2 separate regions of the Homo sapiens genome follow, and region 1 is linked to region 2. Evidence: fine-mapped expression QTL. A gene starts in region 2. The other region holds a variant in brackets. All regions are shown on one strand. Distances are from middle to middle.

Region 1 (15,075 bases), 340 kb before region 2:
CTTCTCTGCCTCCATAATTGTGTAAGCTAATTCTCATAACATATATCTATATAAATTCCAAAAATTATATATATACATATACCTCAAATCCATCTCCTCAGGAAGTTTAAGGCTAGGGTTTTTAAGGGTTTTGGAGTGGGCTGAAGTGTCACCATCGACCGGTCCAAGGGTGCAGGGTGAAGTCTTAGGACAGGGAGATGAAGAAACTCTATTCTCATGCGGAACTGATTCCTCCTTGAGAGCCTCTAAACTGGTTGTTAGCTGTTCTCCTGGAATTCAGGATCTGCTTAAACAACTCTTAAATGAAAGCCTTATGATTCTGTCAGAAATTCTATCTATTGGCATAATGGGGATACATACGGTTAGTATCTAGGGTTATGTGACTTTCGGTTACAAGTAAGTGAGTCAACGTGCAGCCTGAATAATGCTTAATTATAACTATATTTCTGTCCAGAATTCTTGTTAACACTGGAAGGATGGCTTCAGTAAGGATGGATGAAATGTAGAAAGGTGGGGTGATTTCACTGGGGAGAGGTGAATGTAGTCAGGAAAATGAGGTCATGCAGGGCTGGCAGTCCCTATTTTCTCTATCAAGTAAGAGGGAAGGTCATTTTCTGAGAGTGAAGGGAGGAAAGTAGAAGTAGGGGACTTGAAAGACTGGTGAAAGGCTTTCAAGGGGGGTGTTGGGGAAAGGACATATAGGGGAGAAATAAAAGAATTGCTAGAGGGCACTGAGGTTGAGGTTGTTATTTGTCTAAGTAGGAACACACAAGGAGGCATGAACATTGGATTTAATTTCCATATATACTATTAGTGCTGTCGTCTTTGACATGTCATGGCACTGAGGTTGGCGATGAAACATTCTACCCACTGCTCAAGGCAAAAGTAAAATATATTCTCCACTAGATTGTACGCCTATCTCACACTCTTCCAAGCTTCATAGCATTTGGGGCCACTCTTATAGCCCTTATCATGTTACATAGTACTAAAGTATCCTGCCAGCCACACCGATCAGGTTCCTGAATTTGGAGACTGATTTTGAATGGTGTGTCCAAGTACTGATGACTGGAGGTTCTTGAGTTTTGGAAAGCAAGTAGTAAAAGCTGGGATGGAGATGGATTTATTCTAAAATGTATCTGAATCTATTTAATTCTTGGGTTTAGGTAGCAAAAATTTTAAGATTGAATTAGATTAGTGAGGACAATACGTGTGTGTGTGTGTGTGTGTGTGTGTGTGTGTGTGTTTGTGTGTATTAACTTGCCTGCAGTATTGTGCTCACTTGAAGGCAGACCTTTTATCTGACTAATCATCATGTTTCCACAGGTCCCAATGTGGTGCTTTCCATGTGGTGGGTGCTAAATATTTATTGAATGAATAAATAAAAACTTCTAGGCCGGGCATAGTGGCTCACATCTGTAATCTCAGCACTTTGGGAAGCTGAGGCAGGAGGATTGCTTGAGCCCTCAAGAACAGCCTGGGCAACATAACGACTCCTACTAAAAAAAAAAAAAAAAAAAAGTAGCTAGTTGTAGTGGTGGACACCTGTAATCCCAGATACTTGGGAGGCTGAGGCAGGAAGATCTTTTGAGCCTAGGAATTTGAGGTTGAAGTGGGCTATGATCATGCCATTGCACTCCAACCTGGGTGAAAGACCCTGTCAAAGGAAAGAAAGAAAGAAAGAGAAAGAAAGAAGAAAGAAAGAAAGAAAGAAAGAAAGAAAGAAAGAAAGAAAGAAAGAAAGAAAGAAAGAGAAGAAAAGAAAGAAAGAGAAAGGAAGGAAGGAAGGAGGTAGAAAAGAAAAGAAAAGACAAAAGAAGAGAAAAGAGAAACTTCCAGGTATCCTTTTCCCACTTTTCCTTGTTCCTACTAAACTGTACTCTCCCATTAAGATAATTTAAGGTGAAACCAAAAGAATAATTTTAAAGAACTGCTCTTGTAACTGGGACTGCTTCCAAGTGCAATTATAATCACGTGCTTTTCATTTTCCTTTTCCACCCCTCCTATCAGAGAAAACCTGAATCAATTTCAAGAGATGAATTCCACTGCTTGTGTAAAATGTTCTGGCTTGTAGTCAAATGCACATTGCAGGAGTATATAAAAATGACTTTGTTTTCCACACAAGTGAATTCATTTAGGCAGTACCCAGTTTCTATTTCTTATTACCTTTTGGGAGGGCAGAGCATTAGGAAATTAAAAGGTAGCATTTTTGTACGAAAACTGCTGAATAAGGAATACCTGAGTGGTAAACAACTGGCTGAACCACCTTTGTGCTTCTGAGATAAGGGAGCACATTGTTTATTGTACCTGAAACCTGTTTCCAATACAAGGATTATATCTGCCTTGCTTTAGAAGGAACAATAATAGCATGCAACCTTGAACATACACATACAGCTCTGTTCCTTGTTCTTCATTTGTAACCGTATCCTTAGACAAAGCTGAATCTCCTTGGCTCTAACAAAAAGATTAAAAGGTTCTGATAATGGCTGAAATATCTTAGTTTCTGCATGTTTATGTGTCAATTAGGCATTAACACAGAGCTGTGTTTAACAAATATTCATTGAAGGAGTGGAGGAGTAAAGAAACAGACTCCGCTGGTAGAGAACAATGATAACATTTTTCCAGGAGGAGGCAAAGACTTTAGACTCTATCTTTAGACTCTATCTTGCCCAAGCTGGAGTGCATCGGTGCAATCATGGCTCCCTGGAGTCTTGAACTCCTGGACTCAAGCAATCCTCTCTCATAGCTAAGACTACAGGCACACACCATTAATTTTTAAATATTTTTTGTAGAGATGGGGGTCTCACTATGTTGCCCAGGCTGGTCTCAAACTACTGGGCACAGTGGCTCTCCCACCTTTGCCTCCCAAAGTGCTAGGATTACAAGCATGAGCCACTGTGCTCAGCCTAGACTTTTTTTTTTTTTTTTTTGAGATGGAGTTTTGCTTTTGTTGCACAGGCTGGAGTGCAATGGTGCAAACTCGGCTCACTGCAACCTCCGCCTTGTGGGTTCAAACGATCCTTCTGCCTCAGCCTCCCAAGCACCTGAGACTACAGGCATGTGCCACCATGATCAGCTAATTTTGTATTTTTAGTACAGACGGGGTTTCACCATGTTGGTCAGGCTGGTCTCAAACTCTTGACCTCAGGTGATCCACCTGCCTCTGCCTCCCAGAGTGCCGCGATTACAGGCGCGAGCCACCACGCCTGGACAAGACTCTGTTTTTTGTAAGTACCCTAGAAATGTGTTCGTAGACTCAAGAATGTGGAGGAAGAGAAGAAATACACACCTCCGATAATAGACTTAGGATGAAGGTTAATCAACTCCAAAGTGGGTGCATCCACATTTCAATTCAAAACAGCCATAAATGTTATTTGTCTAAGTAGGAACACACAAAGAGGCACGAATATTGGATTTAATTTCCATTTGTACTATTAGCACTGTGGTCTTTGACATGTCATGCAATTCTTCTGAGCCTGTTTCCCCATATAAATGACATATAAACGTGTAGGATTGAGCCTGGCATATTTATTTACTCAACAAATATTCATGTGCCAGGCATATGAGATAAAAAAGCGAAAAAAAAAAAAAAAAAGACAAGATCCCAGCCTTTGAAGAGCTTGTAGTATAGTGGGAAAGATATACAAATACGTGAGTACTGAGATAATTACGGATGGTGTATTAGGGCAGTAAAAGGAAGAATGCCTAAATCAGACTGGGGAACCCAGGAAATCTTCCTTGGGGAGGCAGTGCTCACACTGAGATTTGAAGAAGTAGGAATTAGACAAAAATGGGAAGGTCATTTCAGACTGAATGGGCAGCTGTGCAGGGGCAGAGTGGCATGCATCAGCTGGCTGTTTAGGGAACTGTTACCCATAGTTCAGCACCATTGGACTGGATCAAAGGTTGTGTGGTAGGGAGAGGTAGCACATGGAGCAGGAGAGGCAGGCAGAGGCCAGATCCTGACGAGCCTCGGGTGCTATGCTCAAACAGAGTGAACTTTACCACCAAAGGTACGAGGAAACCCCTTTACCACCAAAGGTACAGAGAAACCCAGGAGTTCGAAGGAGGGGTAGGTGAAAATTAGGTTTCTCTTCACCAAGAGTACTCTGGGCACAAGGTGGGGAAAAGACTGTAGTGGGGACAACTTGGAGGTAGGAGGTCCGGTTTAAGGCCCCTATAGTAATCCAGACCAGCAAAAAAATGAGTCTCAGCTAAAGTCATGGGGATGGGGAGGAGGAGATTTGCAGGGGTGGCACTCTCAGGGCAGGGAGAGAGGACAGGCAGTGAAGGAGATGCAAGAGTCTAAGATGATTCTCATCCGAGTAGATGAATGACATTACCATTCACTGAGGTGGTGATCGCAGGAGGAGGAGCAGGTTTGGGACGGGAGTAGGTGGGGAAGCACAACACTTTCCATTTAGGGCTGGTTTTGTTTAGCTGTCTGTGAGTCATCTGTGTAGAGGTGTCCAGGAGACAATTGACTATATGGGTGTGGACTAGAAGTATAGATTGGAAATAGCAACCAAGGTTGCCAGTTGTCCCCTAATACTTGTTTATTCTTATTTCATGGTAATAGGATTCCTTCCCTCCCTTCGCTTTTCTCTGGGGGGAAGGGTGCATGGCCACCTGGAATAAAAACTACATTTCCCCGTTTCACTTGCAACTGAGTATGGTCCTATGACTAAGACATGTATGATTAAGACTGAGTATGGTCATATGACTAAGACAATGAGAAGTTCTGAAAACCTTACTTAAGATTCAGCCCACGTGTACCCTGCGCCCCTTCATCTGCCTCTGTCCCTTCTGCCATTTTCCTTCCTGGAAGATAAATGCTGCCATCTTGGACAACACAGATGAGACCACTTAAAGAAGACAAGAGAGAAGGGTCCTGGGCAGGGCCATCACATTGCTCTACTCCAGAAGGAACCACTCAGGCTGTCTATGGGAATCGCGCTTGCTAGAGCTGCTCGGCACTCAGCCTCTGAGGCTGTAAAGGGAGGCCCAGAGAGAGGATCTCAGACCTCACGGAGCTTCTGGACTGTTTACTCAGACGTTATGTGAGAAAGAAAAATACATTTTAAAACTTAGCTTTTGCTTAAGCTTTTAAGCTCCCAGTATTTTAGTTTCCTTTTCCTCTTGCAGCCACATGTAATCCTAAATCACACAGGGAGTCACCAACCTATGGGAGGAAGTTGAAACCACAGTAAAGGATCAGGTCAGCCAAGGACCTCGTAGAGTGAGAGGGCAAAGGATGATGACAGAGGCTGGGGGCAGGCACTTGAAATGTCCCTCACACTCTTTCCTTCGGCCATTGGGAAATGTTCCTTTAGCATTTGCTCTTTTCCTTCTCAACCTGCCTCTGGAATGAGAATGTCTTCTCTACTCACCCAGCTGTTAAACCATCACCATTACATCACAGGCTTCTTCAGTCTAACCTTATAGAATCACGGTTGGCTGTGGGGTGAGAAAATCAACAGCAATGAGTTCTATGGCTTCCTTGAGATATCATTTACATACCAAATAATTCACCCATTCAAGTGCATGATTCAATATTTTTGACTATTTTCATGGAGTTATTCAGTCATCACCACAATCTAATTTTAGAACATTTTTGCCTGCAAAAAGAAATGACATTCAATTATTCACTAGCAGCCACTCCCCATTCCACAGTAATGATTTTTAACTATGCCATTGTTGGTTCCTTCTAAATCAGAACTAAACCAACTAGTGAAATCAATTGCCTTAGGTGTAGAAAAGCAGAGAATGATAAAGCTGAGGAGACTGAGGTTCAGAGAGGTTAAGTTACCTGCCCAAGGGGACCCAGATAGTGGCAGAACCAGGTACCCTGGCTTTCCCTCCAATGCCCTTTCACTTTCTGAATGGGAATTCCATAAGTACTTTTTGAATGAAAGTTACAGGGTACCATGGTAGAATAATTATCTTTTTTTCTTTTTAACTTTTCATTTAGAAATAATTTCAAACTTACAAAAATGTTGCAAGAATGCTACAACAAACTCCCATATGCCCTTTACCTAGAGTCCTTAATTGTTAACATTTTACCACATTTGTCTTTCAATCTTTCTGCGTATTTTTATAAATTATTGTGCTGAACAATTTGGGAGGCAGGTGCAGACATAATGTCTCATTATCTCTTAATACTTTAGTGTGCATTTCCTAAAAGCAGGACATTCTCCTACATAACTAAGTAGAAACATCAATACAATGTCACCATTTATTCACAAACTTCCAATTTTACCATCTGCCCTGATAATATCCTTTATGGGTCCAGAATGCAGTTGAGGATTGGTTGTTGGAAGTAATTAATTTGGAACAGTTTCTCAGCCTTTCCCTGTCCTGCATGCCTCTGACATTTTCAAAGGGTACAGCCAGTTATCTGTAGAATACTCCTCAGTTCAGGTTTGTCTGATACTGCCTCGTGATTAGCTTTATGTCATGCATTTTTGGCAGGAACACCACAGAGTAATGCTTTGTTCTCAGTCTATCATATCAAGGGTACATGATGTCAATTTGTCCCATTACTGGTGATGTTAAATTAAAAATGGGTAATAAGAGTTAACAAGTATTTTGTTGGAAGACACTGTGAGATAATGTAAAGATGCTGTTTCTCATCAAACTGTCATCCACTAGTTTTTGCATCCATTGATGATTCTTGTCCAAATTAATTTCCATTCTGTTGGTTGCCAAATGGTGATATTCTAATTCCATTTCTCTTTCTTTCTTTTCTCTCTCTCTCCTTTCTTTTTTTGAGACAGGATCTCGGTCTGTTGCTCAGGCTGGAGTGCAGTGGCACAATCACCGCTCACTGCAACCTGAACATCCTGGGCTCAAGCAATCCTCCCGCCTCAGCCTCCTGAATAGCTAGGACTACAGGCACATACTACCATGCCCGGCTAATTTTTGTAATTTTTGGTAGAGATGGGGTTTCACCATGTTGGTCAGGTTGGTTTCGAACTCCTGACCTTAGGTGATCCACCAG[C/T]CTTGGCCTCCCAAAGTGCTGGGATTATAGGGATGAGCCACCGTGCCCAACTTTTATTCTTGATATTCCCTTTGATTCTTTATTGCCCTCACTTTGGCCCATGGAAGTCCCTTCAGGCTGGTCCCTGTGTCCTTTCTCATCCTGAGCATCACCTCACTTTCTGGCTCAAGAAGATGCTCCAGGCTCATCTTGGACATTCCCTGCCCCAGGCCTGTATATTAGCTTCCTTTGACTGCCATCTCAAATTACCACAGATTTGGAAACAACAGAAACTATTCCCTTACAAATTTGGAGGCCAGGAGTCTGAAACCAATATTAATGGGATGAAATTAGCTATTGGCAGAACCACACTCCCTCCAGAGGCTCTAGGGGAGAATCTGTCTATTGCCCCTTCCAGCTTGGGGTAACTGCTGGCACTCCTTGACTTGTGACTGAATCACTGCCTCCATAGTCACGCTGTCTCCTCTTCTGTCTGTAATCTCCCCCGTCTCTCTCTTATAAAGACACTTGTGATGGCATTTAGGATCCACCTGGCTAATCCAGGATAATCTCCTCATTTAAAAATCTTTAACTTAATCACATCTGCAAAAATCCTTTTTCCAAATAAGGTAACATTTACAGGTTCCAGGGGTTAAGATGTAGATATCTTCGAGTGGACCAGTTTTAAAACTACCACATCCTGGAATCAGCTATTTCCTGATGGAGTCCTATTTCCTTTTAATAAAAAATAATATCTAGAAGCCATGATGTGGATGCTAGGTATGCTTATTGCTACTTGGGTGCCTTTACTTTCAGGCACTCGGTGCAGATAGAGCTAGGAAATTAGGTATATAGATAGATAGATATGTCTATGCATGTATATGTGTATCTCTATATATGTATATATTTATATATACACACATAATACACATAAATCTTTGTTATATATTTACATTAAAAACCAGGAGTTCACACCAATACTTTCAGTTCTATTCCAACACCACAGCATTTATTCTAGCCTTCTTTCATTCTATATTTGTAACTCAAATATAGATCTCTCCAACAGTGAGCGGCCTGGCTCCCATCATTTTCAATATGTTTACTTATTTGCTCAATTCCCCTGTAACCAATCTCCTGATCATACCAGCTAAATCTACTCAGCCCTGTTACTGCCAACCACACCAGCTTTAGGGGATGAATCCCATCAGCCCTAGGAAAGGGGAAGGGCGAAGAAACCTTTTAATAAAAAAAGAGGCACAATATGATTTTATTAGAGAAGTAGAAATGTCAGTGTTGAAGATAAACCTTTCTTCCATTAAGCTCAAGGCACCTTCATTTGTGATCGCACATTTGTTATGCTCAGAGACGTGTCCTTAAGTCCCAGAAATGAGAGAATGACTTTTATAATCCAACATCCTCAAGAGCTTCCCTCTTAAAGGCTTCAAGATGACAGTGAAAGGTTCAGAAATTCCCCAGCACAGCATACATAAACACATTTCATGCTGCATTTTCTCATCCTTAAAAAAATGTGCATTGCCAGACATGCTGAATCTCAAATTGCTTATAGATATACAATTTTTTCAGTTGGATGAACACCTTTATGCTTAAAAACCCTAGAAGACCCTGGGGGGAGCAATTTCAACATCCATGCAGAGACAATCACAGATGATTTTGCCCCTCACTAACTATCTCTCTGATGTTGTCAATGGGAGGAAGGATGGAGTTCAGCAGTGCCATTTATATTATGCTAGACAAACACTGGATTTATATTTCTATTGTGTGGCATCATTGTCTAACACCTAACATGGTTTTCCTGTGGGAAAGTCGAGATGGGGTGGTGAAGGCTGGGGTGGCAAGCAGAGGGAAATCAGTGGATTCAATGCATTTGAGTGCCTCTTCCGGACAAGGTTCTCCTCGCTTTCTGGATTTAAGAGTTGCTCTTTGCTCTCTAGTGAGAAAAAAGTTGGGGGTGGGGATCCCTATCTTAGCTGTTGCAATCCCTGGGCTGCTTCAGTGTTAATAACATTCCAAAAATGCAACAGATTTTGTTTTTGCTGCTATCGCGTATGCCAGGCATCTGGGGTGAGAGAAGGAAAATGGAAACCTGAAAGCGTGTGAAACTGTGGAATGATCGCGGTAGCTTTTGGTAGCAGGGACTGGGTCTAATTTTCCTGTGTCGATGACAAAGGTTCAGGAATCAAAGGGGAAAAAAATTAAAAAGGAATAAAAATCTCTGCTTACTACACATCAGTGTTCTAAAAAGACATATATCTGGACATAGAGGAAATGGCAAGGCGGATTTGCAATCATTAAGCCTTTTTTACAATGTCCATATTTGTGGTGTGGCCATAAAACAAAGAGAATTTCTTTAACACCAAACAACTTACTTAAACATTCAAAGGAATTGAATCCCTTCAAAGTGGCTACCCAGCCAGTCTGTGCACAATTCTAAGGAGAATGTGGTCGCTCAGAACATTTTGGAAACATCTTTTGGAGTGAACTTCAGAGTCATTTAACGAACCACACAAAATTGTAGGATAGTGACTATAGCAACAGTTTTTTTTCCCTCTAAAACTAGAACGGCCAGCCATTTATTATCCACTTCTATTCTCTTAATTTGACTTTAAAAGACAAGAGATTCTAAAAAAAAAAAAAAAATCATCCTAAAAGATCTCTAAGGAAAAGACATATCATTAGTGATAGTTCCAATCTTGGTAACTACTAGCTTCTTGAGATGTGCAGACATTTTGCATTCATTTTTTCTTATCTTTTTTCTCCTTTTACCATTGAGGAAACTGAGGCTTAGAAAGATGTTAAACAATTAGGTCAAAGCGGCAACAGCTAAAATGTGGCAGAATGTGATTTGCATCCAGATCACCTGCTTCCAAAGCTTATACTCCTTTCCGCTGCACTGAATGAGTACCTCCCAATTTTTGGAGCCAAGGTATTAGCCCCAGAAGCATGCGTATTTTAGCCCTAGAAGCATGGCCCCCAAAAGTGGCCATTTCAAAGTCATGATGCTCCTTTGCTTGCAAAAATTCTTATTTAATTTGTTTAAAATCTATTGTTTCATTGGTCTCATCTCATATTTCACATAGAAAATGTTTACAACTGAAATAATGGAAAGTTATCCATGAGTGAACATGGCAAATGTTAATATTACCATTTGGAACAATGAGTCTCAGGAACTGGAGATGGGAGGGGTGCTTGTGCTGACCCACAAGAATCTCAAGGGCAGTGGCTTGGGGCCTGATTTGAAAACAAAGCAGTGCTTTCTTCTTGTGCTTTTGTGTCCCCTGATATTTAATTTATTTTGAATTTCAGAAAATGAAAGAAGGGCATGAAACGTTTTAAAATTTATTAAAGGGCACAGGTTTTCAAAAGCTTGTAAAATATTATATAAGAAGACATCCATTTCAGTGTTATACATATCTTAGCCTTGGTACAAGAAAACACTGACTGGTAAAAGCTAGAAGTACAGAGGTCAAAGAAAACATATTTTTCAATACCCATTGTTTAATAATTCAATGCAAACCTTCCTATTACGCCTCTAAAAAAAATTTCCATTGTTCTGAGAGGAGAACTGGGGAGACGTTGCAGCCGCCTCTGGGCACTGAAGACACAGCTTGTGCAGTTCTAGGAGCCGAAGACGTTCAAACCTGCTCTCTTGTCCTGACTGCAACCCTGGTGGTGAGAGACAAATACTCTTGCACATCTGCTCGATAGACAGTTGTGGATGGTGGGGGATTCCTTCTGAACAGATTTGTAGCTGCTGTGTAAACAGCTGGGTTTAAGAAATAGCTCCATTTGCACTAGCCTATTGTTTGATTAAAGAATTTGAGTGTGTGGCCTTGCACCTCAAGAAGGCCAAAGGGATTGATTATTGGCTGGGTGAAATGCTACCTTTAAAAAGCACTGTAATCTCTTCTCGGCCTTTTGGCTAAGATCAAGTGTAAAGGGCACTGTATGTTCAGGGACTTCAATCTCACCCTCATTCTGCTTGAGTATTTCTGTCCCACTTGTCCTTCAGATTCTTCTTATTTTTATTATTTGTGGCTAGATGGGGTAAGATTCATAGGCTCCAGGGACCATATCTGTTTTATTTGCCAGTGTATACTCGGCATATAGCATAGTATTTGGCACATGGTAGGTACTCAGTGGATGAGTAAAGCAAATAATCTTGCTGTATCCTGCTTAGGGCTCTGTGCTGGTCATTGTCCAGAGTTTATTCAAGTTCATTGGGTTGAATTCCAAACGAAGCAGGAGAGTCCATTTTTAATGATACGTGGACAGGTTGCCACTGCCAGGCCCTTCTTATTACCATTTGGAAAGCAAACCACTGCTACCCCTTTCTGCTGCTGTCAACGGTATCCTCCCTAGCTTGTTAGAAAGAAATTGGCACTTTGATACACAAGGCTCCATCAATCCCTGCACTGGAAATGCAAAATCTGGATTCTCTCTAAGGCTAAATGTCTGGGGCTTGGACTCCTTGGGGTGGAGCCCTGGACAGTGGCCAGTGTCATCAGTATAGGCTGCAGAGACAGTTCTCCAGTGGGGGTCTTCAGTCCAAGCCAATAGGATGGCCACTTGATGGGTCTGAAAGGAAACCAGCTGCAAAATGGAAATTGACATGTTATAAACAGAGAAGGAGGAGACAAGGAAAGCCAAAGCTGAAGAGAGGCTTAAGCAGGAGAGAGGAGAAGGGAGGCTTGGAGAGAGCCAGGAGTCAGCACAAGACAAGGTCATGGAAGGACAAGGAACCCTTCCGGGCAAATCCCATCCATGCCGCCATTTTAACACAGAACAGGTGCTCCAGTCATATTTTCTGGGCTATAAAATGTCCAATACTACAAAGAGGGTATTTAAAGGAGAAGAATTAAACAAGAACTGATGCCACTGGGAACAGAGCGAGGGCATAGGACAATGGTTCTCATTAGAACCTTAAAATCACCTGGGAACTTTTGGGAACCCATGGATGCCACAGCCTGCCCCTGGAGATCCCGATTTAATTGGTCTGGAGTGGGGCTCAAACATCAGTGGGTTTACAAGCTCCCCAGGCAATTCTAATATGCAGCCAGGGGTGAGAACCACTGGCCTAGGAGATCAAGCAAAGGTGAACATCGAGCAGGGAGAAGATGCTTATCTACTAAGCTCCTTGTCCCACAACTGAGGACACTCACCTGCTGGCCTGGCTCACCCCAAGCACTGGGACCTAGTCCCAGCGTATTCCTAGTTCAGAGACATTTAAGAAAGCTGATTTTAGTGGCTCAGGTGACTGGTCCAATTGGAACAGATGCCTCAATTTTCTCCTTTTGCTAACCAGACTATGTCCTAAATCATTTGGAGCCTAAAAGACTTACATCATAAGCAGGATGATAGAATTGAATACAACACAGTAGTTTAACTTTAGACTAGTTAAACTAGTCTAACCCTAGTTAGACTAGGGTTGTCAGCAGCAAATAAGAATACAGAATGCCCAGTGAAATTTTAATTTCAAATAAACCGTGATAATTTTTAGTATGTCTTATGAAATATTTAGGACATAGTTATACTTACAAGTATTCATTTATCTGAAATTCAAATTTAACAGAGCATCTTGTATTTTAACTGGCAATCCGACTTTAGACTCAAATGCTGTGTTTTAATTTAAGAGCATGGCTAGCTTTTTAGAAAAAATGGAAAGGATTGGGTTACCATATATGAGTTGGATGGCTGTAGATATTGATTATCCAGAGACATCCACATTCACACCTGTTTTGCCAACATAACTAATAGTGCCCCCCTTCACTCTCAAAAGTGTCTAGTAGTTTGAATGATAAATTATATGGTCATCCTGTTACAGTAGGTAGCTAGTCAGACACAAACAGGACAGAAGAGGGTCCCCACACCCCACCGGGAAAGTCAGGCGACCATCGGGTGATGGTCAGGCCATTGTTAACTGTCTCTCTAAAATAATAATTGGTTGCAGCCAGCTCCAGGGAAAGGCAGTCTCCCTATAGATAGAAGAAACCTGAAACTGGTGATCATCAGCTTCCTGATAAGATCCCAGGAGTTGGGCGTGCGGACTCACACATGAGCACCAAGAGGCAAAATGGCGGAGTTTAACTGGTATTTGATCTTCTGGGGGCATGTCACCAGTAAAGGGAAGAATGTTTCAAGTGAGCATAAGTACAACTCCAGTAAACACACTGCGCATGCTCACCTCCCAAGTGCTAGCAGGTCACTACACATATGGACAAACCACCCTCAACGAAAGAATCAGGGGAGAAGACCCCAGAAGTATGCCAACATATAAAACCCTAAGTCAAACCACACTTGTCCTTCAAGTCGCCCACTTGGACCTCTTCTAAGTGTCCTTTCCTTCCAATCCTGCTCTAAAGCTTTTTAATAAACTTTCACTCCTGCTCTAAAACTTGCCTGGGTCTCTCCCTCTGCCTTATGCCCCGATTGAGGTTGCTGCCGACCCGTACGAATTCTCCACTGTTAACAATTCCATTCACAGTGACCCAAACTGTGAATACTTGGCTATACTCAGTAAGACAAGATTATACTTGGTTAGTCCTACATAAGAGATCTCTGGTTTTCTTTGTGGAAGCCTGAGGAAACAGAACGTGAACTCCACCCGGCTGTTACTGTTAAACCCATTCTAACTTGCTGACTCACTGTTGTCCTTCTCTGGCTAGACCCAGGGCATCCTAGGGCCTGCAGGAGGCTGGGAAGGCAAGTCTCCTCTCTGCCATAAGCATGCCCTGAACCCTGCTGGGAGTAGCTCTAAACCTTTACTCTCTCTTGGAGCGGGAGACTCCTTACTTGCCCACCAGAACTGAAAACGAAGGGAAGTAGCAGTAAAGCTGCTTTCATGTTTATCTATAGCTGGTGTCTTTAATCTGCCTGTAAAGGACCACTTGGCTAGAGGAAAAAAACATGTTCTCAGTTTTATCTTTGTGACTAGGAAATTAGTCTAACCAGATGAACACACTCAACACTAAACTGATTCTGCTGTTTGTTCTATTCTGTCACTCTGTCTGTGTCACTCTAACTATAGTGGCCTGCTCACATATCATGCCTTAGGCATTTCAGAAAATATCAGCCCTGGGCCATGGCCCTGATTCAGATATTTGTCCAGCCTTCCTCTCTGTGCACACCCCATCCGCTACTGAATACCTTGTGTCCCTTGACAGCCTCACTTCATATTCAGCACCTGATGGCAGCCTCAGGTTTGTCTCCTTGCTTTGATCACCAGGCTTTCTTCTCTGGGTTATCAAATTTGCCCCTTTTTCCACCTGTGCCTCTGCTTGACTTAGGGCTTTATAGATCCCTGAGTTACAGCATTCGTACAGCTCTAAGAGGCATAAAAGATACACCTGTTATCTTTGCTTTCATGGGACCCCTCAGGACGTTATACCTGAGACCCTCGATACCTTAGTTCCCTACCTATCACTTAACTGGGATAAACATTCTGTCTAGGTAACATCATTCACAGTATAGCCATATTATTCAAGTGTCCCAGACCTCACCATTCTGGGAGTACCACATATAGTCACAGTTCTTGTTCAGAACAGCAGTCAGTTCAGTCTTTTCTCTTCTTTCTGTACCTCTCCCCCAAAATGCCTGAGTTACTTCCCTTGTCTGCATATTGGCCTCCATACAGCTGCCTCCTGAAAAGAAAATAGGAGCTCTGATGAGTACTTGCAAGCCAATCTCCATACCTACTGATTTCCAGACTGACCAGAAAGCCTTGCTGCCATAGCCAAAGTGGATGGCTGGTCCTCCTGCTGACACCTGCGCAGTCTAGGAAGGCCAAAAAGGAAAAGCGAACTCTATTTTTTTTTTTTTTTGAGATGGAGTTTCACTCTTCTCGCCCAGGCTGGAGTGCAGTGGTGCAATCTCAGCTCACTGCAACCTCAGCATCCCTAGTTCAAGCAATTCTCTTGCCTCAGCCTCTCAAGTAGCTGGGATTACAGGTGCTCACCATCATGTCCGGCTATTTTTTGTATTATTAGTAGAGATAGGATTTCACCACTTTGGCCAGGCTGATCTCAAACTCCTGACCTCAGGTTATCTGCCAGCCTCTGCCTCCCAAAGTGCTAGGATTACAG
Region 2 (15,075 bases):
TAAAACAGAAAATTACATTAAGCAAATCCATGTTTGTGTATGGAAATGTTGTAGACACGTCTATTTCCACTCCATTTTCACATTTAATCATTGCTAAATCTCTACAATGTATTTTTCTAATGTCTCACTCTGTAACAGTATTCCATATGTTTGGCAATCTTTCCCTCATAGCAAGAAACTTTCAATTAATTTGGCTGCAAGTTTTGTCTCTATTAAGCTATTCCCAGAACCAATCTCTTAACCCCCTAACATCATAATTAAAGCAAATTATACTTTAAAGACATGTGGGGGTGAGGTACTGCAGTTAAACATCTGTGGCTAGACCCAGACTGACAGAGGGAACAGGGTGGGGAGATCTGAGAAAAGAAATCCACCAAAATTACAGCAGGAGGTAGGACTCACCTCCCAAGACGACTTTCCAGTCAGCCGCTCATACAGTTAACCCCAAAGTCCATTTTCCAAGGGAGAATCCATTTCATTTTCACCAATTAAACCCAACCTGTCCACCTACCCCCAAAAGCAATGCCTCAAAATGGTTGACTTGTGCTCCATTTTGATCAGGGATCCTATAAAATTGAGGACTAAATAAGGTAAAACCTCACAGTGGCATCTAATTTTAGTTGATTTCTTCCTACCACAGACAATAAGAGCCCAGCTCCAGGGCGGCTTCTGTCCTATACCCAGCACCTGTGCTTCCCTCCCAGGGCGCCTAGAAAGAGAGATGGCTCCACCACGGTGCAGCCTGCTGGACACACGACCGCCCTCCTCCCCGCCCCCCCCGCCGAGTAAAACCCCTGTGTCGTGAATTCCTGCACTATCCCATGTTTCTCCCTGCAAAGATTTTGCAAAGGAAGGAAGGGATAGACAGAAGAAATTGGGGGAACAGGGGAAGGAGAAGGAGGGAGGAAGAAAGAGAAATTCAAGCCACCAGACCGCGATGGAATTTTACTAAAAGCAGTGGACCCTATTTGCCCACATCTCTGTTATGGGCATTGTTAACACTCATTCCAGGAAGGGAGAAAGGCAAAACATTGTTACAAAAGTAAAATCGCCTCAACGGCACCCCAGCCAGCCCTCTCCAAATTCAGCCGTCTATGCAGCCATGTATTTGGTGCTGCCACAGCAAACTGCTGCTTCAGTCTGTCTCCAACCGTGGGTTTCTCAAAGTGGGTAATATTACTCCTTTTGTCCTCTCTTCAGCTAAACTGGTTCCAAGTCCCTATGCGTCCCAAAGCTCCTCAGCTCTATTCCTGAAAAATTTCCTTAATTGAAAGAAAAGGCACAAGGTCCCTTTATCCGATTCCACCTACCCGCCCCCCATCCACAACTCTTCAATAGGAAGAGGACACAAGTTTCCCAGCCAGAGAAATCCACTAAATACCCACCATTCCCGTCCAAAACAAGAAGCTCAAAGCAGATTTCATAACAAGGTAATAGAAAGAACAGTTAATTCCTGTTAACTAATTTTCCATCCCTGCAGGACTGCAAGCCCCATCCTCCTTCCCCCGGCTCCTCCTCTCCTCCCAGCACTGGGGTCTCTGGCTTCAGTCTACTAATGTGGATGCTAAGTAATCACTAATTGACTGTAACGCAGAGTGAAAGGGCATTAAAATCCGAGGCAACTGGGAAGTTAGGACAATGCAAATATTTAGGACTTGAGGCTGTCTACACCTGGCCAGCGGGGTCATCGGGTCACTGTTCAAAATACAAGATGCCCCTGTGGCCCAAGTTTTTGTCTACTCAATGGAAAGAAATTGCTTTGCTGGTTTCCCGGCTCTCCCACCCCCACCCCACCTCTAGGAGCACTCGATTTTTAAAAATGGACCCTGGTATTTGCAGCCCTGTAGGCGGTCTCCGAGACGTCTTGAGGGCTCGCGTTACCCTAATCCTCACAGCATTTAGTCTACATTCTTGCCTTAACCCCCCTTTGTTTTTGGCGTGTCAAGAGGCAGGTGCAGATACACCTAGCTTCGGTCGTCCTTCCTTCAACTTCCTGCTGCTCCCGGTTTTATCCCTTCACGGCTTTTCTAGTAATTCATTTCCTTTTTCATTAGTTTCACCCTTCGGATCTCTTTAAAAGACACGTTTGCCCCACTGTCTAAAAATAATAAGGTCCCATCCTGCACAAAGCAAACCCCCTGAGACACAGGGATGCGCTCGGTCCCAGTCCAGCCGCGGCCTCTCGTGCGGTGAGTGCACCCGGTGGCCCGCGCCACCTCGCCTTCCCCGGCGGCGCACAGTGCCGCCAACTCCCTTCCCTGGTCGATTTTAATTGACATCCTCAGCCGCCTAGGTAGAGACTCTGTCTCTCTGGAGCCTGACACGTTTCCAGCGCTCGTCAAGGTCCACTAAGCTGCGGAACCGAGTGGGGAGCCGAGGCTCGAACACCCGCAGAACGCGCGGGCCGGGCACACCCGCCGGCGGCCTCCCCGCTCCGAAGAGGAGGAGCCCCTTCGAAAATGGGAGCATCGCTTTCCCAGGGTTAAACAGTCACATTAGACTCGAGCCGCCAGGGTTGGGGTTTAATTTTGTCATTCCAAATGCTTGGAACGAAATGGGTCTGGAGAGGAAGAGAGGTTTTCACCCGGCCTCCTCCTAATGGGCGCGCCGTCCGCACTCGCGCCTGCCGCGCCTATCCTTGCTGGAAAAGTCCCTGCCACCACTCTAAAGGGCAGCAAAGGGGTCCCAGGCCTGGCTAATTCCAGCTCAGTCGGACCTCTGGGCTACCTGAGATAATAAGCTCCGAAAACGGGCGCGAACCTCTGGGCGGATGGACTGCAAGGGCCAAGGCGCAGGAACCTCTATTGCAGCGCACCGGGGAGAGAGAGGCGGTCCCTCCCTTGTCCCCTTCTGGGCTACGACCTTTACCCACCGCTGCGGGACGCAGTAAGCGCAAAGCCGGCTACCCGCGAAGGGCCGGCCGCCCTGTCCACATCTACCTCCACCGGCGAGTCCCCCAAAACCCAGAGCACGCCCGGGATTCCCGGGCGAGTGCCCAGGATCGTGAGCCGCCCATGGGTGCGCAGCAAACGCTCATTTAAAGAATTCATCGTCTGTTCCCCGGGCCACCCAGGCCGGCATCTGCCCGCGGGGCGGAGGAGCCCTGCCCCGGTCGTAGCGAGGTCATGTGGGTCGCGCTCCCAGACCCTAGGACGCCACTCCTGCTCAGCCCTGCGTAGCCCCGCCTAGCTCTGGTTTTCCACGAGCCCGGACCTCGGCCAAGAGAGGAAATAAACTTGAGTTAGGTCCTGCTTCTTCTCAGTCCCGACTTTACGACTTCCCGGGACACTGCGGACTGCTCAATGCAGACCTTTGCCCCTCACCTGCTGCACCTGCGTGCTCCGTGTCCGGCTTTAACAGTTAATTCCGCATGCGGAGCGCACTGGGACAGCGGCTTTCCAAGCTTCCCTCCGTGCTAACGGCCCTCTCAGATAACAAGGCCCTGGAAAGGAGGAGGCCGGAGCCCTCTCGCCCCTTGGGAGTCCTCAGCCATCCGCTGTCCCAAGCGGGGCGCTGCCGCGCTTACCCGGGTTTCTCCAAACTCCCTTCTTTGTGGTACACAGCTCTGGCCAGGGGCTGGAACGGGATCCTAGCAGTTAGGACATCGGAACCCCCAACCCATCAGGCCCGAATCGGCCGGCGGGGACAGCTGACCTCATCTGTAAAAATTGTCTCCTGCCTGAGAATATATTCTCGCGACGCAGGGAGGGAGGTCTATGGTGCCTACAGCTGCTATATCGGAATGTTCGGAATATGATAGAATCTCAATCTATTATATATATATATATATATATATATATATATATATATATATATATATATATAATTTGTGTGTGTTGTGTGTGTCTGTTTCTCGCACTAGGAGACAAGGCAGGAATGGAAAGAAGAGCGAACAGCACCAGCGTTTGAGTGAACTCCTGTCTTGGACAGTGAATCCATCTCACCCCCTTAAGAAATGTCCTGCAAGAAGGACAGTCAACAACCCCGGGGACTCGGATCTGCAACTCGACCTGCGCTGGGACATTACCCCACGCACCCCGGAGGAGCCCCAGGAGAGGAAGTCCCAGGGAAAACCTTTACCCCGACCCTACCAAACACAAAATAAAATACCTTTTTCCTACAGCTTCGGGGTTCGCCAGAGCTTGCCGGAAGCATTTTAGGAGACAAGGAGGGGGACAGAGACCCCCAGGCCTGCATTCCAATTACCACCCCCAGCGGAGACCCCGCGGGGCTCCTCCTTCTCCCGTGCGGGCTGCCCTCTCTCCCGCCAGCGATCCGGGCGGCGGGCTTCCGTCGTCCTTTCCCTCGGTGCCTGGGGAGACTACATGGCAGATGGGTCAAAACCGAGGCGGATAAAACGCCCCACCTTCCTATATGCCTCGCTCTTTTCCGCGTCTCCTCAGAGGGCATGGCCGGCCAGCAGGGCCCCGACGCGTGGAGGGACTGCTGAGGTCCGCGGGGAGAGTTTTGGAGGCGGCTCGGAAGGCTCTCGCCGTACCCGTACCCAACACGGCCCCGGGTCAGGCGCTGTGAGGATTCGGATCTCGACGTCCCTACAGCCCGGAGGGAGGTGGCGGGGACGAGCTGTCGGTGCGGGCCGTAGGGACAGCTGTAGGGCTGTCGGAGCGACGAGGCCCGCACCGGGGGCCGCGCGACCAAGGCGCGGTAAAAAACCAGGAGGGCTACGGCGCGAACTGCTAAGTCCGCACGGGAGCCTGCGGGGGCGGGAGGCCGGGACAGAGTGGCGAGGAAGAGGCCAAGTCTGGAGCAAGACCAGAGATGAGAGAGAAATTATTACATCATTTGGAAACGTTTTCCTAAAGGGTATGCCCCTCACCCATCCCCAAATAAGCAAAGGAATAGTCCAGCTGCCGCCGAAATAAGCTGGATTTAAATCACTTCTTCTAAAATGCCCCTAGAGGGGAGGGCACTAGAGGCACCGAGCTTGGGGACACCTAGACCTGCGTCCCCAAGTGCTCCATTCGTGGTGACTCCATGTGATGAAGAGGCAAACATGTCTGTGTTGAGAGGGAAACCCTTCTAGTTGGCGACTGGAGGGACCCCTGTGGGAGAGCGTTTCTTTTGTCTCCCCTCCTCTAGGGTTTAAGAGCCTACTGTCCCGGAAGGCCCAAGGGTGTGCCCCACAACCCCTCGAGCTTCCCCCCTTCTTAGGCCACTGGGCCCAGTCCCAAGAAAACTAATAGTTGTGTATATGTGGGTGATGGGGACCTATCCCGCGGTCCCAGCACCAACAGCCTAACAGCCAGAGGCCAGATGTGCTGCAAGGGAGGCTACAATCCATTCACATTCCAAGAGGAAATAAAAGCTGGATCCAGAAGTCTTCAGGGAGTGGGCCCCTCAATTTTGGCCGATGCCTCCTCCAACCAAGGTCACGAAACTCGGACAAAGGGAGGACTGACCACCCCCTCTAGATTAGACATTGCCTCCCTGGGCCACCCTGGGGGGGTGGGTGTGGAAGTTCCTTTGTACACCTCAAGTTTTCCACAGTGTGAACCTAGACTCAGCCTTGGCAAACTGTAGCTCTGAAGGTGAGTTCTGGGCATTTTAGCAAAGCGACTCCCTGACGTCGAACATCAAAGTTGTCTCTGAACAGGGAAGGCAAAAAGTGAGACAATCAGAGTGTCACTCATCACAAGAAAGGCCGTCAGAGCAGAGACCATCGTCCTTCATTGGGGTCCCAACAGACAGGTCACCTACGGACCACAGCCATGAAAGCACAGACGTACTGGGTACCAAGGACACTAGTAACACACACACACCCTTCCCCCACTCATGCAGTCTCCTCACTCGCGCAGAGCTACAAGCAGCTTAAGGACTCGGTGCACCTTTGCAGGGTTTCTGTTTCCGTCTTTGCAGGGGCTGAGAACCCACTCTGTCCCTGCCTGTGTGCGGGGTGTGGGGCGTAGTGAATCTCCAATGCCTTCTATGAAAACATCTTAGCGGTAAACTCCCCAAGGCTCAACACAGACGTGGAACTGATTGCCGGCAGTTGACACGAAAACACTCAAAGAATAACTGTAGAATACAGCCAAGAAACAATCTAAATAGGCTTGGATGAAGCTATTCTTTTCTAGTCCCTTCTCAAAAACTTCCCAGGGAAGCCTACGGTACGCCTGCCCTCCGAAGGATCGCCGGACAGAAACCCTGCCATGGAAACCCGAGGCGCAGGAGGGCGCGCTCGTGCGCCCTAGTTTGTAGGTAGTCACCATCCCTGGATGAGCCGGCCCTTACTTAAAGTAAACCCCGAAGATGTAGCTACCGCACCACTAAAGAAGTCGCAGGCGGAAGTACAACCCCTTGGCAAGCGGAGCGAGGAACTCCTTGGTCTCTCCAGGGTGCCCGGGGCGCCCTGCTGAGCGTGCAAGCCACAGGGGCAGGACTCTCCCGGCGCTTGTCGCGCGCGCGCGCGCGCGCGCGCGACGACTGGGCACCTGTTCTGGCCTCTGCACAGATTCCCTCTCGGGGACTCTCGCTCAGGAGTGAAGCACAGAGACGGATTCCCTTCGGGAAAATCTCTGCGCGCGCACACCCATACACACAGAGAGAGACTTGGGGATAAACACGCCGCGAGCTCCGGCTGTCTCGCTAATTTCGGGCGCGGGAAGAAAGCGGGCGGGCAGGCTAGCAAAGCTCCCACACACCCCCGTCTCTACCCCTCCAAACCCGAGCCACCCTGAGCACCTGCCCTCGCGTGCGCAAAGGCTGAACCCGGAATTCACAACTTGCGGTCGCTTCTCCCTCCCCTGCATTCCTAGGCTAGCTGGAATGCGCGAGCAGATTCCCTCACAAGGAGCAGTCAGTTTCCCGCGGCGCACGCGGCGGGCGCCGCGGGCAGTAGCGGCTGGGGACTCACCCGGCACGCACGCCCGGGGCGCGGGCCGCAGGGACTAAGAGTGTGGCCGGGGCTTCTCCGCCGCCAGCCCCAGGGGCGAGAGACGCGCTCTCCAACTTCCCGCCAGCTGGGGTGAAGTTGCACTAGCGGTCCTGCAAGCGCTGACCGTCACGCCGGCGAAAGAAGATTTGTGGGGACCACCCTCGCCCTCAGGCCTGGCCTACAGCTCGTACCCCTGGGTGTCCCCAAACAGCACTCTCCCCAGCGTTCCAAGAAAAGCCTTGGGCTGGAGATGCGGGGTTCGGTACTCGGCTCGCCTCAAGCATGATCCAGGAGGCGTTCACATTCGGCCCCAAACAGCCAAGAGCCTGGCCCCCTCAAACGCACTCTGGCTGGTGCCCCTGCCCTGTGACCGCCTCTGCGCCCCGGCCGCCAGCCCCTCCCGGCCCCTGAGCGGCGTCCGGCCCGCCCCGCAGCGGCTGAGGCTGCTAGCTGTCTTGTTAGAATTAAATCAGCGAGAAAGGGGGGTGTCTTACGTTGCATCGGCACACCTAGCATCTCCGGGAGCCCCTTGACAGCCCCTTCCGCGGGGACAGTCGCACTCTGCATCATCTCGGAGCGAAAGCCAGCGAGTCGCAGTCTACGGAGATCTCTCGCTCTCTCGCTCTAGCTCGATTCAGAAATTTCAAAATAATAATTAAAACCCCAAGCAGGCCGCTGGAGTCACGGTGGAAGCCGGGCCCTCCGCTTCTCAGGGAGGACTCCACAGGCTGGCCGGCCCCCTCCCCCCGCCAGTCCCCAGTCTGTTTCCAGTCCCTTTGATCTCGCTCTCCGGGGTTGGTGCACATCCCAGGTTGAGACGCTGTTGCTGCAGCTCTGGCTTTTTTCCTCTTCCCTCCCCCGCCCGCTCCTTCCCCCTCCCCCTCCACCCTTCGCGTGCCGGCCGCCCGGGAGGCCGCGGTCACCCGGGCGTTTTGATTCATTCACACTGCAGGAGCGGCCGTGACGTCGCTTTCCGCAGGGAGGCCCGCCCTTCGGCACATCCCCCAACCCGGCGGCGGGCAGCCGACCCCGGAGGGAGTGGGGGTCCCGGCGCCCCGAGTGAGGCCGGCGGGGCGGAGGGGGGCGGGGCGGCAGGGAGCGGGGCGGGGCCTCGCAAGCCGGCACCCCCCCCCCCTCCCCGCCTCCGCCTCCGCCTCCGCCCAGCCGTGGCGGGCTCGCGCCCTGGGTATAAATTCTGCTGATGGCCTGCCGCGGCAGCAGGTGGTCGGAGACGGCGGCGCCCTGGGTTTGCGGGTCTTCGTGGGTTCCAAGCCCGCGCGGCTCGTGTCCTCCTCACTCCTCCGTTCGGACCCAGGGGCGGGGCGGAGCCGAGCCGGGGCCGAGCGGGGCAGGCGGTCCGGAGGCCGGGGACGGGGCTGCGTCGCTGTGTCTTCGCCTTGCGCGCTCTCGGTCCCCGGCTTCGCTCCGCCGGACGGAGCGCGCTCCGTAACCGATGACTCCATCTATCTTCCTCCTCCTCTTTCCCCTGGCCAATTCCTTTCCTGCCGGCACTTCCCAGCCCCTGCTCTCTCTCCCCCGCGTCTGGCTGAGGCTGGGCCAAGGGACAGCCCGTACTCGGCCCGGAACGCGCGAGTCACGCGGCGGGCGGCGCCGGCCCGGGCTGGGGAAGGGGACCAGGGGCTGTGCGCGGAGGTGGCGGGACGCAGGCCCCCCGCGCGCGTCCCCGCAGACCGCGGCCTGCAGCCGGAGTCCGCACTTGCCTCCAGTTCCGCAGGGTAGGGGGCCCAAACCTCCCCGCGGCGGGGCCTCCCCGGCCGCCCTGCCACCAGTCGTCCAGCTCGGCCCTGTCTTAGGTCCCTAGAGCCCGCTCTGCCTCTCCGGCTGCCACCGCGGGTGCTTTGAACCATCCGCGACCTCGTGCGTGCAGGGCGGCAGTGAGCACACGGACGCCGGGGTTAACCAGCGAAAGGGCTTGCCATGCTTACTGTATTTACGAGATGCATGGACAGGTAGAGAAACGCTTAAAACAAATTCTCCTCAACGCGAGTTTCTGGCAGAAATACAACAGAAGGCCCAACGCTGGGACGAGGTCTCCTCTGACGCTCCATCAGGCGCTCGACGCCTCCGGGCTGCAGGCGCGGGAAGCCCACCCCGTCTGCCCCAAGACCCAGCCGCTCTCCTGCCCCCAGCCCCCACGGCATTTCCTTCCAGAAATGCAGACATACGTGTCCTTCCAGCCTAGTGGGGTTCAGCTTAGGCGGGAAGGGGGACTGTGTGCCCTCCCCAGCCTTCCAGAACCTTCCCTGCTGTTTCCCCTGGTGTCATCTCCAAACAAGGGACACCTGCTCACCTTTAAGGGAGGAGCATGGGGCGGGGGAGAATGGCCTGGTCGTCTGCGCTGCTTAGAATTTGTCTCCAATGAGGTCACAGTGACTTTTGTGTGTCCTGGTACTGGGTTGGCATCATCTCTTCCCTTGTTTACCTGCGAGGTGACTCCGCGCGCGAGACAATATACACAAGAAGAAAAAAGCAAAAGAACCCAGTGACATTTTTAGTGTTTACCAAAATGTGTTCTATAGAAATATAACTAGTAAGCAAACACGGGGAAACGCCAGCCTCATTTGCAGTGAAAAACACGCAAGACAAAACAACACGTGCACAGCTTTTTCTGTTTGTGAGATGCCCGACGCGCGGGAGGGGCATCCTAGAGTTCAGGACTGGCGAAAGGGGCTTGGACACTCACCAATACTGCTGGGTGCTTATAAACTCTTAACATCCGTTTGGAAAGAAATTTGGCAATATGTATCAAACTCATAAATTTTTCATACCCTTTAGTTTATGTAGTACTTTTGAATGTCTGTTCCACGGAAATAATCTAGAATTTTTTATAAAAGTTTCATGCGTGAAAATGTTTATTACAGTATTATGTTTTGGAGAAAAATAACCTAAATAGCCAACAAAAGAAAAGTGGCTTAGGGAAGTAGATTAAATTGTTTGGTAGTATGTTATGGAATCATGGAAACCAATTATGAAACCCAATAACATGGGGATGCTTGTGAAATACTATTTTTTTTAAAAGCACAATGCAATAGCATAGGATTATAAATATGTAAAAATCTTAGTCAAATGTAAGGGCAATGATAATACCCATTGTTGGTTAGGCTGTGGGGAAATTAGAAAACAATTTCCTAGTGGGGATTGCAAAGAGGGGAAATGTCTTCTCAGGACGTTTTGGCTACAAATGTGATGCATTTGACCCAATCTCTATAGAAATTTATCCAAAGAAAATAATCAAGAATGTTTGTGAAGATGTAGTTACAAGGATGTTTATAAGGTTTTTAAAAGGGAAAACCTAAATATCCAACAATAGGGGATAGTAAATAAGTTACAGTAAATTATTAAGTAAAATGGAATGTTATGAAGTCTTAGAAATAATACAACAGAAGAATATTTAATGTAGAAAAGGGTTTGAGATTTATTAGGAAATGTGAAAAAAGAATATGAAGCGGTATGAACTTCAGGAACTTTTCTTAAAAAAAGCATAAACACTGTACACTTAAAAATGGTAAAGATGGTAAATTATATGTATATTTTACCTCAATAAAAAATTGTTTAGGAGGAGTAAAAAAAATGCCAAAGTGTAAAAGTGGTTATCTGTGCAGTGGATATTTTATTTTATTCTCTTCGCTTTTTTCAGTTTTCTCAATGAGCACATTATTTTATAAAGCAGAAAAAAACTAATAAAATGCTTTTTAAAATATTAGGGAAAAGGTAAGGAAAGATACCAAAATACTATTCAAAAGAATATTTGGAAAAAGGTATATTAGGGAGATGTATTATGGAATTTTTTCCTTTTTCTCTTTTCCAGATTTTCTGTAAAGTGATTATTTTTCAGTAACATTAGTAAAAGATAACATTCAAATGCAGTGAATGTAAAGCATATATAGTAATTACTTTTATAATTTAAAATTATATTTTAAAAATGCTCTCTGCAGCTCCTGCTTCTCTGATTTGAACCTGCTGGGGTCCTGCCCTTTTCCCATTGCATGTCACTAGCCTGTCAGTAGGTGAGGAACAGCCTTACTGTGGTGGGGACTTATCTCTGCCCAAGACTGATTCAGGGGATACCACTTTCACCTGTGTCGTTTGGCAGACAAGCCCAGGAAAGTCAGCTTAGCTCTCAGTTCTTGCACCTGTAAGCAGCAGCTCCAACATACCTTGCACCCCCATGCCCACACACACAGTGCAGCTCAGCCAATAAATGCCCTTTCCACATTCTGAGGCTTTTTTTTCTTTCTTTCTTTTTTTTTTTTTTTGAGACGGAGTCTCGCTCTGTCGCCCAAGCTGGAGTGCAGTGGCGTGATCTCAGCCCACTGCAAGCTCCACCTCCTCCCGGGTTCACGCTATTCTGCCTCAGCCTCCCGAGCAGCTGGGATTACAGGTGCGCACCACCACGCCCAGCTAATTACTGTATTTTTAGTGGAGACGGGGGTCTCAGCATGTTGGCCAGGTTGGTCCCAATCTCTTGACCTCGTGATCCACCCGCCTCAGCCTCCCAAAGTGCTGGTATTATAGGCGTGAGCCACCACGCCCGGCCATTCTGAGGCTTTTCTAAAAGCATTCGCCTCTTGTATGAGCTGGGTCCCATTCCCAAGGTCCTCCAATAGCATCTATACCAGCCAAGACGCTTCACTTCCCCTGGGACCTCAGCTTTCCCATCTGCAAATGAGGAACCCCTAGCAAAAAGCTTTCCTTAAACAGATTTTAGTGCCTACTGCTGTTGATGGTAATAATAATAATAATAACAACATAGTAGCATATGGTAGTAATAATAACTAATATTTATTGAAAGTTTGCAACTGTACTAGGCACCAAGGCAAGTGCTTCTACCTGCATAATTCTACCTATTCTTCATGAGGAACTGATGCATGGTTTCATCATACCTACTTGGTGGATGAAAAAACCGAGGCTAGCAGGGGCTAAGCTGTTTTCTACCCCCAGAGAATGGGAGAATGGCTGAATCCCACAGAAGTCCATTAATCTCTACTATGGAATGGCCCAGAAAGACCCTTGGGGTGGGACTCAGTTTGGATTAAAATCCCTGAGCTGACTCAGCAGGGCTTTTCTCACTACAATGCACCCAGGGCTGGCAGGTGACCTCCCAGGAATGTTCCTCAGAGCCAGCCATGTCCCTTTGGGCCAGGACCTGGTTGGAGGTTGAGCACTAGAGGATGGGCCTGTGGTGGGGTGATGTGGCTTTCTTCAGGTCTAAGTTCTGTCAGAGAACTTGAACAATAGCCAGTACAAAGTATCCAGTACTTGCTAGACATTTATACATTCCATTTCTGGAAACCAAACCCAACATGTCAGGGGATCCAATTCAGAGGCAAGACACTCAATTTAGGAAAATGATTATAGCTTACATTTATCTAGCATTTTACATTTTACAAAGTTCCTCCACATATTTTATCTCCTATTATCTTCATAATTATGCCCGGGCTTGGGTATGATTATCAGGAAACAGAGAGGTTAAGTGGTTTGCCCAAGGTCACACAGCTAATAAATTGCAGTGCCAACTGGAAATTAAATCCAGTCTTTTAAGTCTCAACCTGGTGTTCTTTCCACTCGGCACAGCAGTCTAGTGTGTCTTCTAACCCTTCCATTTTAAGAGCTTCACAGAGTAGGCAAGTTCACTCTCAGATGCCAGGAATCCTGAACCCCAGGCTCTTTCTCCACTGAGGGACGAATCTCACTGCCCCTGCTCCCCTCCCTGTCATCCCAGCTCTAATCATCTCCTCCTCATCCTCATTCCTCTCAAGGCCCCTTTCATTATTTGCATTTTGAAACTGTTTCCTTAATTATTCTCCTGCTGTTGGAAACCTGCTCTCCCGGGGCTCTGTGGCATCCTTTGATTTATCTCTGTCTGGATAACAGCTCCCCGATTCTCCTTGGGGAATTCAATTTTCATTCATTTTTCTGCTGGGCTAGATTGATATAGACCCTCTGCCCCGGTCCGTATTACTCATCCCCGCAGAGAGAACCAGGGAGACCAACCCTAAGCCCAGCCCCTGGGGAGCCACTGTCTTGTTCAGGGAGCCACAAGGAGTTCTCCAATAAAAGGACAGGGGCCTTTGCTCTTCTCCATCTGTCCACCCAGTCCTTCCAGTCATTTGTCACAGGGCCTTTCATGGGCCCACCACTTTGTCATTTGTCTCATTCTCTTCCCAGAACCTTGCAGGGATCTCTCCCCACCAGGATGCTGATCAGAAGGCCGTCACTACTCATCTTAAACCTGCCCTGTGTCCTTGACACAGGAATTTAAGGGATATGGGAAAGAGATGGTCCTGTACTTGGCCATCTAACTCTCAAGATAAGATTCTGTCTCAGTTAGTGGCTAAGAAACAGGACAAGAAAAGGGCACTGGGATCCTTAGAGGAAGACGGAAAGCAACAATGGCTCACACTTACATTGCCAGCCCTGTTCTAATGCTGCATGTATATTCCTCATGAAACCCCCACAGATCCTTAGAGGCAGGTACTATCATTATCCCTATTCTACAGATGAGGAAAATGAGGCACAGAGAGGTCAAGTGATGTGCCCAAGGTTGCACAGGTGGTAAGCAGCAGAGCTAGGATATGGTCACAGGTAGTTTGGCTCTATCCTTGCAGCATCACCAGCATCATCAAATAATCCTTATTTAAGGGTTCCTGGGCATGGCCAGGTGAGGGGTCCATGCAGAGTACATGACCCAGCAAGGCCAAGTCCTCTAAGCCCATCTCTGAAGCTATCACATCCCATGGCTGTGTGTATGGGGGAGCTGGGGAGTTTAGTCTTGTTCCAATTTCAGAGTTAATTCTCTTTATCTCTCAAAAGTCTATAGTACTGGCTGGGCATGGTGGCTCATGTCTGTAATCCCAGCACTTTGGGAGGCCAAGGCAGGCAGATCACCTGAGGACAGGAGTTTGAGACCAGCCTGGCCAACATGGTGAAACCCTGTCTCTACTAAAAATACAAAAATTAGCCAGGCACAGTGGCAGGTGCGTGTAATCCCGGCTACCAAGGAGGCTGAGGCAGGAGAATTGCTTGAACCCGGGAAGTAGAGGTAGCAGTGAGCCGAGATCACGCCACTGCACTCCAGCCTGGGCGACAGAGTGAGACCCTGTCTCAAAAGAAAAAAAAAAAAAAGTCTACCTAGATCATTCCTTAATTCGTGCATTCATCGGGCATCTATTGTATGCCAGCTCCATGACAGGCCCTGGAAGGCAATGACCTGGAGTGCCAAGTGCAGACAGTTCACAGCTTACTTTGCTCCAGGACTGGCAACATTCCCATAAAATTATGTCAGCAAAGTTCTCCAGATGCCTGTCTTCCTTGTGTTGGGAAGGGGTTGGAGAACTGGGTTAGTAAATGTTTGGGTTCTGGGCTTAGATGACGTGCATTCAAATCCCAACTTGGATACATTCTGGCAAGTTCCTTTTCTGCTGTCCCTAAAGTCACATAGCTAATAAATTGTAGTGCCAACTGGAAATTAAATCCAGTCTTTTGACTAAATGGGGTTAACAACAGCACTCTACTCACAGATTGTTACCCACCGCACCTAGTAAGCATCATGATTATACCCTCTGCAATATTTTGCTTTTTTTTTTCTTTTCCTTATTTTACATTTATAGGGGAAACCAAGGGACAAGAAACTCTCCTGGGTGTTCTTAAGTGAAGACTAGACTTTGGGAGCTCTTCTTTCCTAAGCATGCATTTGGGATAGAGAGAGCCCCATGGCCATGGACTGTTCTTGGTTTTCCCCTTTTTGCAGGTGGAGGAAACCTGCTCTTTCAATTCTGCCACAAGCTGAGGTCAATGTGCCAGAATTGCTTCTTGGGTGAAATTTTAGCTATCTTGTGAAAAGCTCCACTCCGTCATGGCAACAGACACCTTGCTTATACGAAGCAAAGGGGACAGGAAGGTATAGCTGGGCTGATTCTGTATTTTTCCTTCGGAAGCTGTTCTGCCCACACTGCCTTGCACCTATGTTCTCTTCGTTTTTGTTTGTTTTCTGATTTGACTTAATCTCCAAATTTATGTAAAGAAGGAGCTTAGATTCCAGATGCTGCACAACTGCCACCTTCCCCGCTTCCCCCTTTCCTCATCTTCCCTCCAGGATTCAGCGGCATCTCAAATCCAAGAATGGTCTTAGTGACCAACATTTTTTATAGTGCTTGACA

Which allele goes with the higher level. Alleles are on the strand shown, and positions count from the first base shown. SD is a standard deviation of normalised expression in the study named.
For the expression in lymphoblastoid cells of the gene that starts at base 7,731 in region 2, T is the high allele of the variant in region 1 and C is the other (large effect, 0.77 SD a copy in GENCORD).

The links. PIP is the estimated chance that this variant, and not a neighbour inherited with it, causes the effect. A credible set is the group of variants that fine-mapping cannot tell apart.
Region 1: its variant is the best candidate, but not a certain one, in a credible set for the expression of LHX4 in lymphoblastoid cells (GENCORD, PIP 0.67).

Annotation. Positions count from the first base shown.
Region 1 is chr1:180,561,763-180,576,837 of GRCh38, reverse strand. OVAAL (ovarian adenocarcinoma amplified long non-coding RNA) reads right to left here. Exons shown (of 3, transcript NR_125716.2): 2 at 14,494-14,634; 3 at 10,320-11,587. It also overlaps the pseudogene LOC124904658. Among named protein-coding and RNA genes, the nearest start is that of OVAAL, 10 kb to the right of the region's middle. RefSeq lists an enhancer at 4,205-5,404. The variant C/T (reference allele first, on the strand shown) is at 6,998.
Region 2 is chr1:180,222,920-180,237,994 of GRCh38, reverse strand. It overlaps LHX4 (LIM homeobox 4), which reads right to left and starts at 7,731. Exons shown (of 6, transcript NM_033343.4): 1 at 7,390-7,731. The coding sequence starts at 7,465. RefSeq lists a silencer at 8,161-8,290.